Linked DNA regions of Homo sapiens. The protein of the gene in region 1 purifies or fractionates together with the protein of each later gene. This does not show direct contact. Each region holds a gene or a part of one and is shown in the gene's direction. Other genes may lie near its edges. The genes, in order: PAX8, MKRN2 and NFIB.

The links.
Region 2: the proteins of PAX8 (region 1) and MKRN2 purify together in Homo sapiens (affinity purification with mass spectrometry, with the first as the bait; one large-scale study listed by BioGRID). This does not show direct contact.
Region 3: the proteins of PAX8 (region 1) and NFIB purify together in Homo sapiens (co-immunoprecipitation; one large-scale study listed by IntAct). This does not show direct contact.

What each region holds. Positions count from the first base shown.
Region 1 is NC_000002.12:113,240,909-113,244,563, reverse strand, and holds part of PAX8 (paired box protein Pax-8), read left to right. Parts: coding exon 1-137; intron 138-1,785; coding exon 1,786-1,874; intron 1,875-2,433; coding exon 2,434-2,556; intron 2,557-2,837; coding exon 2,838-3,013; intron 3,014-3,655. UniProt on the Homo sapiens protein: Transcription factor for the thyroid-specific expression of the genes exclusively expressed in the thyroid cell type, maintaining the functional differentiation of such cells.
Region 2 is NC_000003.12:12,559,943-12,563,597, forward strand, and holds part of MKRN2 (E3 ubiquitin-protein ligase makorin-2), read left to right. Parts: intron 1-814; exon of another isoform or gene 815-1,057; intron 1,058-3,655. UniProt on the Homo sapiens protein: E3 ubiquitin ligase catalyzing the covalent attachment of ubiquitin moieties onto substrate proteins.
Region 3 is NC_000009.12:14,150,021-14,153,675, reverse strand, and holds part of NFIB (nuclear factor 1 B-type), read left to right. Parts: intron 1-3,410; coding exon 3,411-3,531; intron 3,532-3,655.

The sequences.
Region 1 (3,655 bases):
ACCCCCAAGGTGGTGGAGAAGATTGGGGACTACAAACGCCAGAACCCTACCATGTTTGCCTGGGAGATCCGAGACCGGCTCCTGGCTGAGGGCGTCTGTGACAATGACACTGTGCCCAGTGTCAGCTCCATTAATAGGTAAGAGAGAAAGCAGCCTCTGGTGTCAGGCTGGGGCCCCTGGGCTTTGGGGAAATCAGGAAAGAGACAAGAAAGGCCTGGCTTGGGTGGAGCAGAGGCCGGGAAGGGGCCTGATGCTGAACAATCAGGCAGGGAGCACACCTGGCTCCAGGCAGATATCATACCTCCCTGCCTCCTCCCTTGCCCCATGCTATGGGGCACCCTCCCCCTGGCCCCCAGCCATAGTGTGCTATCTACAGTTTCCTTCCTCAAACACCACATCTGCTTTCATTCAATAAAAGAATCTTCATGAATTGATCCTTTTCTAAGCCATCAGACCCCTAACCCAGCCCACATTCAAGCATTCATTCGTTTAGTCCCTCAATGATTCACTCACTGCCTCAATCAATCATTTACTTACTCACTCGCTTGTTCATTAATTCATTCACACATAATTCACTCATTCATTTTGTGCTAGGCCCTGGGACACACAAAGCCCATCTTTGCGGAGCTTACAGTCTAATGAGAACACAGATATTAATCAACTACCTACAAAAAATATTGTAAAAATGCAGCTGTAAGTCCTGCTAAGAAAAGGAACATGAAGATATGCAAGGTAGCACAGGATTATTTGGTTTATGAAGTTCATGAAAGTCTTCCCTTGAGTAAAAAACAATAAGAGAACTAGGTGAAAAGAGCTCAGACAGTTATGCAAAGGCCCTGTGGCTAATAGGATCAAAAGAAAACCAGTAGATAGGCCAGGTGCAGTGGCTCATGCCTGTAATCCCAGCACTTTGGGAGGCCAAGGCAGGTGGATCACCTGAGATCAGGCGTTCGAGACCAACCTGGCCAACATGGTGAAACCCCATCTCTTCTAAAAATGCAAAAATTAACTGGGTGTGGTGGCGAGTGCCTGTAATCCTAGCTACTTGGGAGACTGAAGCAGGAAAACCACTTGAACATGGGAGGCAGAGGTTGCAGTGAGCTGAGATCACGCCACTGGACTCCAGCCTGGGCGACAAGAGCAAGACTCTATCTCAAAAAAAAAAAGAAAGAAAGAAAAGAAAACCAGTAGATAAAGAGCAGGGGAGCACAAGGTAGGCTGAAGTTGAAGATGTCAGCAGAGGTGACCTTTCAGAGGCTGGGGGCTGTGTTATATCTTCTTGCCTTTGGTCATAAAGCAATGGGAAACCCTTGGCAGATTTTAAGCCAACTTGCATTTCAGAAAGTCCACTCTGGCTGCAGTAGGGAGAATCACTTAGAAAGGGCCAAGAGGGGATGGGCGTGGGCCACTGAGTGACCCTGGAACACTGGTGATGACATGCACTAAGGTGCTGATGGAGAGACGCAGAGAGGGGTCAACGTTGGCAAGGTTCACAAGGTCAAAACACAGAACTTGATGATGGGTTTGATAGGAAAGAGAGGGAAGCAGAGGTTAAGCCCCATCTCTGTTTTGGCCTTGAGTGACTGATGGTACCAATCATGAAATGCGGACAACTGAGGAGGACTAGGCATGCGGAGTAGGGTCACAGACTTGACTGTGGACAGTTGAGTTTCAAGTGCCTTGGAGATACCCAAAAGGGGTGTCAAAAAGGCGACTGGGTCTGGGGCAGCCATGAGTTCTCTTTCCTCCTCTTCTCTCTCATGGCCTTTCTTCTCTTCATCACAGAATCATCCGGACCAAAGTGCAGCAACCATTCAACCTCCCTATGGACAGCTGCGTGGCCACCAAGTCCCTGAGTCCCGGACACACGCTGAGTGAGTGCTGAGAGACCTGGATACACACACATGCTCGTGTACACCTCCCCTTCAGCATACCCACATATACACAGAGGCACACACAGACACACCCACACAGACATAGCTGTGCACAGTACCATTCACAAACCCATGTGTAGACTGAGTTGTGCCACTGCGACGAAGTCTGGCCTGTTCCCAGGGCAGATTCACTGAACTATGGAGAGGTGCAAACACTTGAGACAGCTCTAACTCCAAGAATCCCTCCCACCAGGAGGCCCCCTGGAGGAAGGACCTGAGCCCCTCCAGGGCTCAGTCCATGGTTCGGCTTGCTGCCTCCTGCACAGTGTCAGCAGGGACTGTGAGGGGTGTCACTCTCACTCCCTGACCCTCTCCCTCTTCCCACCACCGCAGTCCCCCCAGAGTCACCCCAGGGCTGTAAGGGGTGTCCCACCCCTTGCTCCTCTCCCTCTCCCCCAGCCCCTGCAGTCCCCAGCTCAACTGTAACTACCCCAGAGTCACCCAGGGCTGTGAGGGGTGTCACTCCCACCCCTGACCCTCTCCCTCTCCCCCACTGCAGTCCCCAGCTCAGCTGTAACTCCCCCGGAGTCACCCCAGTCGGATTCCCTGGGCTCCACCTACTCCATCAATGGGCTCCTGGGCATCGCTCAGCCTGGCAGCGACAAGAGGAAAATGGATGACAGTGAGTGCTGGGACAGGAGGGCAGCGGGCGGTGCACGAGAGCAGTTTGCTCAGGCTTTGATGGGGACAGAAACCCTTCCACTTATGATATGGGACTTTGTAGGGGCTCTGCATGTGACTGTCACATGTCCTGTCCCTCAGTTGGCCAAGGCTCCTGGGCCCACGTGGCTGGCCCTTTTTCTCCCTCCACAGTGAGTCAGCTTGGAGTCAGTCCTCTACTTTGGCCTAGAGCATGAATAGATAGGTCCCCTAAAAGCTTTCTTCCTTCCCGGGGGGTACCAGGTGATCAGGATAGCTGCCGACTAAGCATTGACTCACAGAGCAGCAGCAGCGGACCCCGAAAGCACCTTCGCACGGATGCCTTCAGCCAGCACCACCTCGAGCCGCTCGAGTGCCCATTTGAGCGGCAGCACTACCCAGAGGCCTATGCCTCCCCCAGCCACACCAAAGGCGAGCAGGTGAGAAGCTGGGCCCTGGGAGGTGAACAGGGTGGGCAAGGGCCAGAGAAGGTCTATTCTCCAAATGAGCCTGTGCTCCATCAAAGCAGCTGGAAGTTGCATCAATGGGCTCAGGGCACCTGCCTTATGCAACTCCAAGCCTGACACATGCTTTATTTTACCAGATGCCCTGGCATCTTCCTCCCTTTCTAACCCTCCTGGCTTCCTTCACCCAAAACCTTTGAGCCTGGGCCTTTCAGGGATGGCAGCACAACCTGATGATGCTATCCCTTGCCATCAGCGTCTTTCCCAGATTGCAACATCACGTTCCACAACTCTGAAGCAGTAGCACAAAGCCTTCACATAATGACCTCAGCCACTATTTCCTAGCCCCACCTTTGGCCACTCATCCTGCACACCCCATGCTCTTGCATTACTCATGGCCCCGAGCTCACCACCCTCGCTCACACCTCTCTGCCCTTGCACACTGTGTGCCCTCCACACAGAATGCCTTTCCTCCCACTTCTCTGCATGGAAAAATACCACTAGCCTTCATGACTCAGCCAAACATCACCCTCTCCGTCAGTCCTCCCCTGCCCCTCCGACATGAATCATCTCTCCTGCCTCTTGCCCTTCTGCATGTCCCACATGCTGCTCTCAGTA
Region 2 (3,655 bases), on another chromosome or scaffold:
TCTTTGAAAGTCACAAAACATGGGGGATCTTTTCAGCTGGCAGGTGGTAGGAAGAGTTTGAGCCCCAGGGTTGGGCAGTTCTGGATTCTAATCCTGGTACCACCTGTGCAACAACTGCCTCATCTGTGAAATGAGGATGGTAATGCCTAACCGGCAGGGCTGTTTAAAAATTAAATAATAGCAACAAACCATTTATTTTGTATTAGGATGAGCACTTACATGCATTTTCTCAGTTAAATGTCCCAGTAGTCTATCATAGCAGTCTATGAAGTAAGTGCAGTTATTATAATCACATTACAGATGGGGAAACTGAGGCTCAGTGACTTAAATAACTTGCTTAAGCTCACATAGCAAGCAGTCTGACTTCAGTGTCTTCACCACCACACTGTACTTCATTTCATTCCCGCCTCTAATCAGTACATTTATTGCAAGCCTGCCACAGTGCCTACCATTTGCTTCCTTCCCCCTCAGTGGATCTGCTGTCACAAGGAGTATAGCCGTAAAATTTTAGCCTGTGAAAATATGTAGGAAAATGTAAAAAAAAAAAAAAAAAAAGACACTGAGGATGCAAATTACCTGTATACTTGGAAGTGATTTGCAAAAGCGTTTTGCTAAACAGGCAACATTCAAGGGCCTGTAAGAAACCAGATTGATTGTTTTGCTTAGCACTGCTGCTGCTGGAGCTGCTGGTGGTTCTGTGGCCAGCAGTGAACCTGATATGCTCTGCAGTGTATAATAGCCATACTGTCTGAAACAGTCTTTTGGGTTTACCCAGGGTAACACCCCTTTGGAGTGTCCCCCAGAAAGAACCTACCTGCTCTGAGTCTCCAGCTATGCACTTCACCCACCTAGTCGTCTCTCCCCTCCTCCAGTTCATGTCTCAGTCGTCTCTCTTGGAAGATATGAGGGGCGGTTTGTCCATCAGAAAGGTTGAGCAGTTGGAAATTCATTACAAAGCGCAACATGAAAGAGGCTTGGAGTAAGATCAGTATAACATAGATGGAGAGGAGTGACTATAAGCACATGACAGAGATGCCCCAAAGGACAAGCAGGATGTGCTCTAGGTGGCTTTGTGCTTGTCACTGGGGAGTGGAAATGGTGACATATGCTACAAAAATAGGACTGGGCTGACTTCACCTCTTACATAACTCTCATTTCATACTTTCCTTTCTTGAAGGCAGTGATGGTGGTCTAGAAATTATTTTTGAATCTGTTTAAATCTCAGCTCAGTCACTTACAGAAGTGAAGTGGCTTTTATGAAGTCACCAGCTTATAAATGGCAAAATTAACTAGAAGCTCTGGTTGGCAGTTAAATATTTGTATTTTAGTGGAAGAGATAATTAGTGCAGTTTGGAAGGCAAGTTTTCTGGATAGGACGTATGGAAGGCGGAGGTAGAATTATAAAAGGCATCCTTGCAGGAGACCACTACCTAAAAAAGTCTTTCTTCTTGTCTGCCTTGTTAACAAATAGTATCTGGTAGAGGGCCTGTGGTAGTCTTCCACCCTGGTTCTTTCAGGAAATTTTCTGTTCTAATTGCTTCAAAAGAAACAATACAGTATTGGCTGGTGCAGTGGCTCATTCCTATAATCCCAGCACTTGGGGAGGCTGAGGTAGGAAGATCACTTGAGCCCTGGAGTTTGAGACCAGCCTGGGCAACATAGCAAGATCCTGTCTCTACCCGAGAAAAGGAAAGAAACTATACAGTATTTATTCGATATCACTTTTGTTTAACTGCTTATGTTGCCACTTTGAACCTGTCCTCTTTCAGTATTTATGAGTTTACTAATCCTGATACCTCTTTGTCATTCAGACTTGGCTCTTGGCACTGACTTTTTTTTTTAAATTATTATACCTTCAAAGATTACCATGTCTGAGGACAATTGAAATATTGCAGTCTTGAGTAGCATTTCTCAAAAATAATTCTCAAACTGCTTAGATGTATACTCTACTTTTGTGTTTGGGATCTCCAAGACCACCCCAAATCCAGAGACTGTCTAGAACTAGGACAAGTGGGTCCCAGTATACAGCTGTATTCAAGGCTGAGATTATTACCATATCTAGTAAGGGGTCACAGCCAGATCATGATGGCAGAAGACATGGGGGGTCTGGAGGAGCCTGGGTGCAGGCTTCCTACATCTGTCCCTCCCTGAGAGGGCCACACAGCAATGAAAATGCAGCAACATGTGTCCAGGGAAGCCCATTAGGGATTCAGTGCCCAAGCTGGTCACATAGGCACCCTCTGCCTAGCATGAACCAAAATTCCAGACTCCCAGAAGGCAAGCAGGTTTTCAGCATGAACTACATTGTACATCAGTTTAGACACAGCGAGACACTCTCCATCATTTAGGGAAAATTTTGTATCTGTGTAGAGAACTGTTACTAGCCAAGTTCCCAGATGCCAGGCAAGGGGCAGCCTTGGAAGCAGACCTTCCTAAGGATAGCAGTCTCACATCTGCTGTGTAACTCTCTTCTGTGCATTTATAAAATCGGTATTGTAAATAACAGGAACTCTAAGTTTCTAACAAAAAGTTTCCCAGCTTCTGTTTGTGCTTTTTCTTTTTAAAAAATAAAACTTTAACAGCCTTATGGCAAATTACTGCACAATGTCTGATCTAGTGCAGTGGTCCCCAACCAGTCTATGGCCTTTTAGGAACCAGGCCACACAGCAGGAGGTGAGTAGTGGGCAAGTGAGCAAAGCTTTATCTGTGTTTATAGCCACTCCCCATCACTCACATTACCACCTGAGCTCCACCTCCTGTCAGATCAGCAGCAGCATTAGATTCTAATAGAAGCACTAACCCTATTGTCAGCTGTGCATGTGAGGGATCTACGTTGTGTGCTTCTTATGAGAATCTAATGCCTGATGAACTGTCACTGTCTCCCATGACCCCCAGATGGGACCATCTAGTTGCAGAAAAACAAGCTCAGTGTTCCACTGATTCTACACTATGGTGAGTTGTATACTTATTTCATTATATATTATAATAATAAAGTGCACAATAAATGTAATGTGCTTGAATCATCCTGAAACCATCCCCCATCCCCCCATTCCGTGGAAAAATTGTCTTCCATAAAACTGGTCCCTGGCTCCAAAAAGATTGGGGACTGCTGATCTAATGGTAGGCCACAAGAGGGTGTTTCCTGGGGAAAGCCTAGCTGACTACCTAGCAAAGGCTGTAGGATGGCACCATTGTATAGTCACTTAAGTCATGAGGTCCAGTTCTCATTTTGTAGGCTCAGAAATTTGATTCTGTTGGTGTACATAGAGGTGGCTCATACTAGCCAAACGCATGAGAGACTGACTTATATACTAGAATATCCTTTTATAATTTCCCTGGGAAAAAAATAAACTGTCAGGTAGGTCTGGTCAGCACTTCCTCTGCTTTTGGGGAGAGAAACAGGTGGAGAAGTCAGAGGTTTCTGATTGGGGCGGATGTGCAGCATGTTCACTAGTACCCTTTCTCTGGAGACACCAGCAGTCTGGGCCTCTCGGGCCTCCCTGGCATTCCTTGCATACCATTCCCTCCTGTTGTCTAGTTCTTTTTTTTTTTTTTTTTTTTTTCCTGAGACGGAGTCTCACTCTGTCGCCAGGCTGGAGTGCAGTGGCACGATCTCGGCTCACTGCAGCCTCCGCCTCCTGAGTTCAAGCGATTC
Region 3 (3,655 bases), on another chromosome or scaffold:
TGTGTATGTTGACTTTAGCTAATGAAGCCATTCAGCATTAGGATAGTGATCTCTCTTTTGAATGATATTATCTCCATCTTAAAAGTTGATTTAGGATCAGCTTTTGGAGTGAGGAGAACAATAAGGGAGATTAAAGGTTGGCCTCTAACCCTTAGAATCTGAGGTTCTTTGGTGCTTCATTTCTAAGAGGATATCGGCATCCTCTTAAACATGATTTGCAGCTTTCAGCCTTCTTGTAGCTCCCTGGGAGAGGCGCTAACACTGATCTTTGCGTCTGATGTAAGTTCTTCCAGAGGCTCTTAAGCAGGAATATCTGACTGAGACTTGCTGTTCCCACACACTCTGTCATTAAATAATTTCCATGTGTGTTGTTTTAGTACTTTGGCCGTGTTTGTTAATCTACTTTCCTTTCTGTATCTCCCATTTAGTGTCAGAATGCATACTAAATTTTTACAGTGCTCATGCATAAATCCGTAGACAAATTATTTTATTGCTATCTTTACAAAATTAAAACATAATATGTGTACATATTTATGGAATCCATGTGATCTCTGGATCCATGCATACAGTGTATAATGATTAAATCAGGCTATTTAGGATATCTGTCATCTCAAACATTTATCATTTCTTCATGTTGGGAATGTTTCAAATCTTCTTTTTTTGCTATTTTAAAATATGTAATATATTGTTGTTAACTGTAGCCACCCTGCTGTGCTATCAAATACTGGAAATTATTCTTTCTGTCTATTATAACTGTATGTTTTTACCCATTAACCAATCTCTCTTCATCTCCTCACCTCCCCACCCTCCCCCACCTCTGACAACCCCTTCGATGAGATCAACTTTTTAAGCTCCCATGTATGAGTGAGAACATGCTATATTTGTCGTTTTTATTGCTGTCTTGACACTGCGGAATAATCTTTCTGGAACAAAATTTAGAAAAAAACAATTTCTGAAGATTTTAAAATTATCATTTACTACAAATTACATCTAGTTTATTTATGGGTAAGCAAATTATGTTAACTATGGAGCCATATGTATTCAATAGAAACTATAAATCTTTGCCTAAATATTGCATGAGCTTAATAAATTGAAAATAGTTTATGTAAGGTGGAACCTCTAAGTTTCCTGTTAATAACTCAGGTCTATGAATTGTATCCATTACTGTGATAGGAAGCCAGACAGATTGTTTACTTCACTTGAGCCCCTGAAATACTCCTTCTAGCATGTACCCCACTTCCAGTGTCATATAGAACATGGTTCTAATAATAAATTATAAAACATGCGGTTACTGTGGGATTTCTTACCTCACATTTTTTTAACCTTTGGTGTGCCTCAAGCCACAACAGACATAGCTACATTTTAGCTGTCCAAATAATTCAAGCCATCAGGCACTTAGTTACTCATTGGATACAAGTATTTTCTGTGTAAAGGATGTTACAGTGTATTATATAACATGAACAATCTATCAGAAGGCTGATAGATAATCCAGAAGTTTGGAGCTGTTACTAGTCATGTATATACTGATGTATTTAATTTTTAGTCCAGAAAGGGAGATGTTCATTGTGTATTCCGTGGTTACTTCTCTGTGATAAAGCTTGTACCTCCTAATCATACTTTCTTAAAAATATTTTAAGTTAATCTTAGCCTGCCTAATATTAAAATACAATTCAAAGGGTAGTGAACACATTTAGAATATTCATTAAAAATGAGGGGTAAGAAAACTTCCATAAAAATCTGCAATCCCTTTGGAATTTTATACTCAACTTGAGGCAGATGGGAGAGAGGAGGAGTTTAAGTAGACCACGTATGCTTAGAGTGCATCTCAGGGGCTCTAGAATTTTGTTGCAAAGCCCCAGAGTACAATTTCGTGTGAGCTTTTGAAGGGCTGATTAAGACAGGTAAAGAAATGGAAACTATTCTTAAGGAGTTCTTTGACACCAACCTGCCTGGTCTCCACTTTGCACATTATCTCTACCTATGATTTTGCTTCTGCAGCAGTCCCTGTTTAGAATGACCTCCCTCTAATCTCTTACTCATTCTCCAGAGTCCAGTGCCAGCTATGGCTTTTCGCAGACTTCTTGGACAATTCAAGCTGGTATTGGATTCTTTTTCCCTTGAAATTCTACAGCAGTTTTGGATCATGTCATTAATTTGGACAGTTTCATTTTCATCTATTTTGGTATTTATGTGTTTCGCATGAATGTTTTACTTACCCAGCTTGTTGCCCAATATTTTTATTAAGGGCAATATATGAGACTATTTTGTACACATTGCAGCCAACACCTGCCAGCAGTGGACACAGTCAGTAATTTGTTGAATGAACAAATTTTCAGCGAACAGGTTCATTTATACCTCTTCCTCTGCTTTTAACACGTTTTTGAACTGTTCATCTTTGCTAACCATTCCAGTCTACCAGGGAAGAAGTTTGGAGGAGAAAGCAAAGAAGGAAGGGAACTCACAATGGTTGAGCACGTGTTATACACTAGGCATGATTCTAGGCTCTTATCACTACCTATTTCATTTCATCCTCAAAATAATCCTATGTGTCCGGTTATTATTACTCCCATTTTACAGTTAGGAAACTAGGGCACATAACTTATAATACAGAGGGAGTTTAAACTAAAAGGCTATTTATCTCTCAAGACTCTGCTGATTCTAACACAATATGCTGCCTCACAGCTTTGTTCATGATATCTAAAATTAAATTTAAAAAATGTGAACAGATGTAATTATACAAAATATCATGAGATATTTTGATAAAGACATACAATGCATAATAATCACATCAGGGTAAATGGGGTATCCATCACCTGAAGCATTTATCCTTTGTGTTACAAACCAAAAATTATTATTCTATATTATCAACATTAATATCAACATTAATATTTGAGTGGATTAGAAGTCATGATATTAATAATTATTATCATATCCTAACTGGGAGGCTGTGAATAATGATTTTTGCTTTTTTTTGTGAAACGGTTCTCTGTTTATTTATTTAACAATGATTTGGTTTTCGAGAGCCTAGGTAGTGCAAAGCAGCTTGTTTGGTGTTGCTGAGTGATAGGACTCGTATATTCTGTTTCCTCCAAGGCATTTTTAACTAGCAGAGTGACAGATGTAATGTCAACTAATATAAAGGAGTGAGTAAAGAAGGTTGAGGAATAGGATTCGGGAAATTGGTAACCAGTGATTATAATCTGATTGCCTCAAATTTCCAAGCTTGAACGTTGCTAAGGTGAGCAAGTTTTCAGGTCCTACCCAGGTTGTATGGTGGGTATTAGAGGCTTAAGGTGAAGAAAGTTCTCTCTATCTTTGACCAGAGGCATGAAAGATTCTCGATTATTACATTTGAATAGAGGTCAGAAATACGAATGTCATTCCCAGTGCTTCTTTGTCTTATTCCTCAGCGCCCATAACCCAGGGAACTGGAGTCAACTTCCCAATTGGAGAAATCCCAAGCCAACCATACTATCATGACATGAACTCGGGGGTCAATCTTCAGAGGTCTCTGTCTTCTCCACCAAGCAGGTACTGAAAGAAGGGCTGCTCATATTCTCAAGTGATACACACATAGGTTCGTAGGTGGATGATAGGCAGATAGATAGGTAGGTAGGTAAAGAGAGATGGGAAATAATTTTTGCTGGTAGTACAC